2 linked regions of the Homo sapiens genome follow. The protein of the gene in region 1 interacts with the protein of each later gene in a biochemical or structural test. Each region holds a gene or a part of one and is shown in the gene's direction. Other genes may lie near its edges.

Region 1 (3,748 bases):
TCTGTTGCCCAAATGGGATGTGGTGGCACAATCATAGCTCACTGCAGCCTTAAACTCCTGGGCTCAAGTGATCCTCCCGCCTCAGCCTCCTGAGTAGGCGGGCTGCAGGCATGCACTACCACACCCGGCTAACTTTTTTTTTTTAAATAAAGGTGGGGTCTTGCTATGTTGCCTAGGCTGGTGTCAAGCTCCTGGGCTCAAGCGATCTTCCACCGTGCCCTCCCAAAGTGCTGGGATTACAGTCTTCAAGTACATCTTAGTAATGTACTGTGAAATTAAAATTTATTTAAGATTTCAGTTATTATTAAGATGAGCTTCGTGCATGTTATATTGTCGAAACAAAGGTACTTTATGGTAAACTTATAAAGTATAGTCTCTAAGATCCTGTTACAAGAGACTAAAAGCACCCACGGTAGAAGAGACGGGGGTTTTGAAGCCGTGTGGCTGTGTGACATTTCACCTTCATTTGTTCACTGCCTGAATGTGAATGTAATTTTGGCTGGGTTCTATAAACCCCAGGCTTGGAATGATTCAGATTTTGGAGAATTTGCTGTCCTCAAATCCCAAGTAATTTTCTTCTCTCCCTTAGGCACTATGTCGTCCGAGGCCCAGAGATGACCCCTTATGAAGGTAAGGATTCTGTGCTTAGGAGAAGAACACCAGGCGGTTTTTATATTCTCAGTCAGCCTTGCCTGTTCAACATCTTTTATTTGCAAACAGCAGCCTTTCTACTTTGGATGTGTGCTAGTTAAATTGGCTTAGTTGGAACTCCTCCTCGTCTGCTTCTCCACACGCTGGAAGTGTTTGCTCTGCTGATGTGTCTCAGCCTGCAGGGCCGCCTGTAGCGTCTGTGTTCACCAGCCTCTGACACCATAGGGCCATAGCTGAGAAAACCAGACCGGGGTAAACACTGAAGCTGGCCTGTTCTACTATTTCTTAAGACCCAGTGCATATCATCAAAGGAAAGGCACATATATTCAGTTATTCAGTGTGCCTTCTGTGCTGGGCGCCCCCAGGGTTTCGCAATCCCCAGGACGGTCTCTGAGCTAAGTGGAAGTACCCCTGTGTGGTGGCACCTGGGGCTTCGGTAGGCTGCAGGACCTGTCCAGCACCTCAGCCCTTCATCGACTACCAAGGCTGATCCAGCAGCCTGACCCCTCCAGGTCAGCAGACACCACCTAGAGACCTAGTGTCATTTATAGAGAAGATGCTGGAGCTGTCAGTAAGTTTCTGGGGCCTTTGGCGGAGGCTGGCGCCAGCCTCGATCTGGACCAGGTCAGTAGTCAGTGTGCCCGTGAATACTGTCCCGCCGGCAAGCACAAGGCAGAGCAGGGCCAGGTCAGCAGTTGCTGTCCAGCCACAGGGCCCCGGCTTCAGGTGGCTGGAGCAGCAGGCTCTGTTTGCCTGTGTGTGGAGGCTTTGGATGAGATTTCACTAGAAGAGAGTGCTGCTGCTAGAAGAAGGTTTGCAACCCCTGCTTTGGACTGTCGGGAGGGTTGTGGGTGGGTAAGAATGAAAAAGGCTCTCCTGAAGGCATTTTGGCCGAGTTAACACAGCCACACCTGTGGACTCTCCTTTGGCCCAGGAATCCCAGTTCTGGATCATCTGCAACTAGGGCAGCCAGAGTGCGGGAGTACATCTGTAGGGTGGGCCCTCCATCATCGTGTCATTGCCCATGACCAGCGTTGGGGATGCCAGCAGGCCGTGGTGAGATAAGGCCCGGGAGCAGGTGTCCAGGGCGTGTTAAAGTACTTGTTACGATGCGTGTGTGTGCCTTCAGCTGATCTGAAGAATATATACCACCGAGTGAGTAGTGGTCGGCCGGGCGCGGTGGCTCACGCCTGTAATTCCAGCACTTTGGGAGGCTGAGGTGGGCGGATCATCTGAGGTCAGGAGTTCGAGACCAGCCTGACCAACACGGAGAAACCCCATCTCTACTAAAAATACAAAATTAGCCGGGTGTGGTAGTGCATGCCTATAATCCCAGCTACTCGGGAGGCTGAGGCAGGAGAATCACTTGAACCCGGGAGGCGGAGGTTGCAGTGAGCCGAGGTCGTGCCGTTGTATTCCAGCCTGGGTGACAAGAGTGAAACTCGTCAGGAGATCCAGACCATCCTTGCTAATACGGTGAAACCTTGTCTCTACTAAAAAAATACAAAAAATTAGCTGGGCGTGGTGGTGGGGCCCTGTAGTCCCAGCTACTCAGGAGGCTGAGGCAGGAGAATCGCTTGAACCCAGGAGGCGGAGCTTGCAGTGAGCCGAGATCGCTGCACTCCACCCTGGGTGACAAGATCAAAACTCCATCTCAAAAAAAAAAAAAAAAACCAAAATGGGTGGTGGTCTTTGACAAGCAAAATTATGCCAGCTTTACATTTTTTTTGTTTGTTTTGTGGTTTTAGTTTTTTAAAAATAAATAGTGAATATTAATTCTGTATCCACACCCAGTCTCCCTCAACTTCACCAGCTAGGTCAGTTGCTGGTGGAGATGAGCTGCTCCCCCAACAGGGCTGGACACAGTTGGGAGAAGAGGGGGCAGCCCCTGGGTGTGGTGCGGCCGTTGCCAGCCCCAACCCTGTCACTTGTGCTTTTATCTTGGTCCCCTCCCATCGCTTCCGTTGTTCCCCACAACCGTGTGTGGCTCTGTGCTGGTCCTGGGTCTCAGGAAAGCCTCCCTTCAGAGAGAGAATGTGTGTTCCTACTGCCCCTCCCATTTCCCTCTATGGCACTGCTGCTCCCGTCCCCGCGGACCTCCCCCTCACTGGGGGATGCCTTTTGCTCTCTGCAGCCCTGCCCTCTGCTCTCCTTCAGGGTCTCCAGGGAACCCCTCCGAATTGCCACTTGCCGAGGGGCTGTTCTCAGTCCTCAGTTTCTTAGCCTCTGGTATCTGATGCTGCTGACGACAGCTTCCTTCCTGACTTCGGGATTTCTGACCCCTTTTCCTGCCTGTGCATTAGCTGCGTCCCCTCCGTGCACTGGGTTCCGTGGCTGTTCTGCCCCTGGTGCTGCCCAGGCGTGCCCACTCTGACAGTTCAGAGCTGGCTTCCTACAAATGTTGCTAAATCATTCCCCTTGAGTGAATCTGTAGATTTCACACAGTCCTAACAAAATCTCAGTTTTTTATACTACACAAGCTACATGCAAAGGCAAAGGACCTAGAACAGTTAAAACCATTTTTCTAAAGAATGAAGTGGAGTCTGTGGTTTCAAGACTTACCCCAGTGATGAGGGTCAGGCAGTGGTAGAGGAGGGACAGGCCATGGGGCAGAGTAGCCAGCTAGGCCTTTGCCTCAGGCTTTTCAGCAGATGGCCTGGGGTGTGGGGATGTTCAAGCTGCCAGGGACCCACTTCAGGACAAGTGGGTGCTTCCTGATTTTCATCTGGTGCTGTGAACGTCTGTGTGTGTGTGGCTCTTGGTGCCTTTGTCTTGGGTTTCTCTGGCGGGTGACAAGCAGTGGGATAGCCGTCTGGGGCTTCCCGATAGGTGTGCGCGCAGTGAGGCAGCAGGGCGCCCGTCTCCCATCCCGACAGGTGTGCGCACGCAGTGAGGCAGCAGGGTGTCCATCTCCCAGCACCCTCTGCGCTCAACTGGCTGTTTCCTGCCGTGTAAGTCACTCTTGCCCATTAGCACCGAGCTAAACATCGTTCCAGCCTCGCTTTGGCTGTTCCCGCTTCCTCTTTTAAGCAAGCCTGTTTCTTTCACTCACTTTCCAGTTTGGCCTTTCCTTATGATCTCTTGTGTCTTCTGGGTG
Region 2 (3,748 bases), on another chromosome or scaffold:
CCATAAACCTTGGGGAATCACTAGCTTATTCTTGTGTGAGGTTGGCATCTGAAGGGGACGTCTCTTAGAATGATTAACCAACTTTTTTATAGACTTCAGCAGAAGTACAGCCTACTTAGGTGGTGGTGGTGTTGTTGTTGTTGTTGTTGTTGTTGTTTTGTTTGAGATGGAGTCTTGCTGTGTCACCCAGGATGGAGTGCAGGGGCATGATCTCAGCTCACGGCAACCTCTGCCTCCAAGGTTCAAGTGATTTCCTGCCTCAGCCTCCCAAGTAGCTGGGATTACAGGCACCCGCCACCATGCCCGGCTAATTTTTTTTGTATTTTTAGTAGAGACGGGGTTTCACCACGTTGGCCAGGCTGGTCTTGAACTCCTGACCTCAAGTGATCCTCCCGCTTTGGCCTCCCAAAGTGTTGGGATTACAGGCGTGAGCCACTGCTCCTGGCCAGTTTTTTGTTTTCTTATTAAAGCATAATTTTACTTAAAATAAACTACACATTTAAATCATACAAGGCTAGCATGGTAGCTTACACCTATAATCCCAGCACTTTGGGAGGCCAAGATAGGAGGATCGCTTGAGGCTAGGGGTTTAAAACCAGCCTGTGCAAAATAGCATGACTCCATGTCTTAAAAAAAAAAAATCAGGCATGATGGCAAGTGCCTGTTGCCCTAGCTACTTGGGAAGCTGAGGTAGAGAATCATTTGAGCCCAGGAGTTCAAGGCTGCAGTGAGCTATGATTGCACCACTGCACTCCAGTCTGTACGACAGAGTAAGACCCCATCTCTAAAGAAATAAAACTAAAATATAAAATAAATTGGACACTTTGCTTAGTTTTAACAAATGTGTAGACCCCTATAATTGTCATCTCAGTCAAAATGTACTTGGTTTGATTTTGAAGTGAAAGAGAGGTTTTAATTTATGTGCCCATCTGGTTTACACTAGCATCCTAAGAATCGCCTCAGGTTCAGAACTGGTTGTGGAATCATCAAACCTATGGTGTTTTGTATTTCCCTCCAGGTCAAAGAGTTAGTGGAAGCAGAGTTATTTGCCCGTTATGACCGCCTTCTCCTCCAGTCCTCCTTGGACCTGATGGCAGATGTGGTGTACTGCCCCCGGCCGTGCTGCCAGCTGCCTGTGATGCAGGAACCTGGCTGCACCATGGGTATCTGCTCCAGCTGCAATTTTGCCTTCTGTACTTTGTGCAGGTTGACCTACCATGGGGTCTCCCCATGTAAGGTGACTGCAGGTATGTTTTAACTGTGAACCCAAACCCCCATCCCCAGTCTCTCCCTCACATTTCACTCTACTACCAGGGCCTTATGACTTCATTCTTCAATTTGGAAGTATTCATTTAGCAGATATTTCTGTGTCAGTGACTATCTCAGGCCTTGGGGCTGTAGTAGTGACCAGAAGAGACAAAATGTCTGCCCTCATGGAACTCACATTCTACCAGGGGAGACAGGAAAACAAAATAAGGATATTAGGTGGTGGTAAGTGCTGAAGAGGCAGAAGAAATAAAGCAAGGACAGGATATGAAATGTTCTGAAGGGGAGGGGACTTGGGATTTTAGTTAGGGAAAACAGGGGAGGCCTCACCGGCAAAATGGTTTAAGTAAGGACTTGAAGGAGGTAAGAAAAACCGTGCAGATACCAGGGAGGAACATTCCAGGAGAAGGAATGGCACAGGAAATTCTATATACAAACATGGAATAATGTAGATCCTGGATGGCCAATGCAGGGCATCTAAGCTGCCATTCTTGTCTCCATGGCACATGTGTTTGACTAGTCATCAAATGCTTTCTCCTTGAGCCCAGAGAGGCCTCAGAATCTTCCTCAACATGGCACTTCGGAAAGCTACCCTCTGATGAAGTAGACACAGGAGTGAAATGTGTTTGCCGTTTCCAGTCTACGTAAGGAATCATAAATCAGGCCCTTAACGTCGATTTAATTGGACTTTGGTGGCTTAGTCTTCTTCAGACTAACAGGGATAATGATAACAGCTACCTCACAAAATTGCAGCTAGAGCAGATAACAATAACTTCACGGGGTTATTCTAAGGATGAAGGGAACGAATATCATGCTATTCAAAATTGTTATATTTGTTACACTGGTGTATAATATATAGAAATTGAGAGGGTTAGAAACTTTTATAGTGATTTCACATAATTTTATGTCAAATCTAATAAAAATTTAGACTTTTTTTCATTTTTCTAATAATTGATTGTTAGCTGACTGTGGTGGTGCACACCTGTAGTTCTAGCTATTCAGAAGGCTACAGCAGGAGGATCTTTTGAGCCTCAGTTGAGACTAGCTTGGGCAACGTAGTGAGACTCTGCTTCTAAAAAAATTAAATCAAGCAAACCTGGTTATATCTTATAAAAGTGTTGATCTTTGACGTATCAGAGAAAAAATAAACTGGGCCTTTACCATAAATAGTTTGAGAAACAGTGGGCTAATACATGTAAAATGCAGAATGGGGCTGGGCATAGTGGCTCACCTCTGTAATCTCAGCACTTTGGGAGGCCAAGGTGGGCGGATTGCTTGAGTCCAAGAGTTTGACACTATGGCAAAACCCCGTGTCTACAAAAAAATACAAAAATTAACGAGGTGTGGTGGTGCACATCTGTAGTCTCAGCCACTCAGGTTGCTGAGGCGGGAGGATCGCTTGAAACTGGGAGGTAGAGGCTGCAGTGAGCCAGATTGCACCACTGCACTCCAGCCTGGGGGACAGAGTGGGACCCTGTCTCAAAAAAAAAAAAAGAGGAAAAAGAAAAATAGTAATTATTAATGCTATTATTATTGTAGTTATTACTTGCTAATGTTAGCAGACTGTCATTATTTCCAAGAAAGTACCATGAGAGGAAAGAGTGGGTAGATAATTTCAGTTGCCTCAGGCAGCACCTTGCAGAAGGTAAGGCCAGATGGAATGGAGAACTTAGCAATGTATAATATAAGCCTTTACTTTAGACTTCTGTAACCTTTTCATTAAAAGTCAACAGTACATTTCAAGTGTTTCACAGCATTCAGGGAAGAAATTGAAGATAGATTCAGGGCTTTAGCAAAATTAGGAATCTCTCCCTCTCTTTGTATGTATATATTATATAAAATATGAAATACAATTTTATTATTTTGGGAAGACTAAAGCAATATAACCTTTGTCCTTAAGATGCCTAGGAACACAAAAATGCATTGAATTATTAGAGGGATGAGATTTACATTGCTTCACTGCTACATTGAAGTAGAGGTGATGAAGCTGTGGGAATGTACTACACAGAGAAAGAATTCACAGGTGAAAGCAAAGAGTGGAGATAGGATATAGGATTCTATACCAGAAGATGTCTTTTGCTTTAAAAGGGAGATAGACTTCCAAATAATGTGAGGAAAGTAAACTGATAAAATAACTAGAACATTGTTGAGAAAACTCTTTAATTAATTGTATTGAAAAATTAAGGTAATACAACTGTGAACAAAAGCCTTTTGTCTGCAAGTAAAACCTTTGGGATTGGTTACCTGTTCCATTTCAGTTAAATGATAGAGCAGTAGAAGCCAGATTGAAGAGTATCGAGGGAAAACTTTTCAGCACCTGTAGCAAAGCATAGTACGGGGTGAGACTTGGGTGCTAAGTTTTATTCACTGATTTTTTTTTTTTACACAGAATTGAAGAGGTAGTCTTTGCCCTTAAGCCAAAAGTGCCTTTGTATTTGGTAGGCCTCTTCATTATCAAACAGTGAATGGTGCTGACTTAGTG

What was found. The genes of interacting proteins can lie anywhere in the genome.
Region 2: the proteins of UBE2J2 (region 1) and RNF14 form a complex in vitro, tested with the Homo sapiens proteins (one study listed by BioGRID).

What each region holds. Positions count from the first base shown.
Region 1 is NC_000001.11:1,260,228-1,263,975, reverse strand, and holds part of UBE2J2 (ubiquitin-conjugating enzyme E2 J2), read left to right. Parts: intron 1-589; coding exon 590-630; intron 631-1,585; exon of another isoform or gene 1,586-1,691; coding exon of another isoform or gene 1,692-1,707; intron 1,708-3,748. UniProt on the Homo sapiens protein: Catalyzes the covalent attachment of ubiquitin to other proteins. Seems to function in the selective degradation of misfolded membrane proteins from the endoplasmic reticulum (ERAD).
Region 2 is NC_000005.10:141,979,105-141,982,852, forward strand, and holds part of RNF14 (E3 ubiquitin-protein ligase RNF14), read left to right. Parts: intron 1-1,018; coding exon 1,019-1,247; intron 1,248-3,748. UniProt on the Homo sapiens protein: E3 ubiquitin-protein ligase that plays a key role in the RNF14-RNF25 translation quality control pathway, a pathway that takes place when a ribosome has stalled during translation, and which promotes ubiquitination and degradation of translation factors on stalled ribosomes.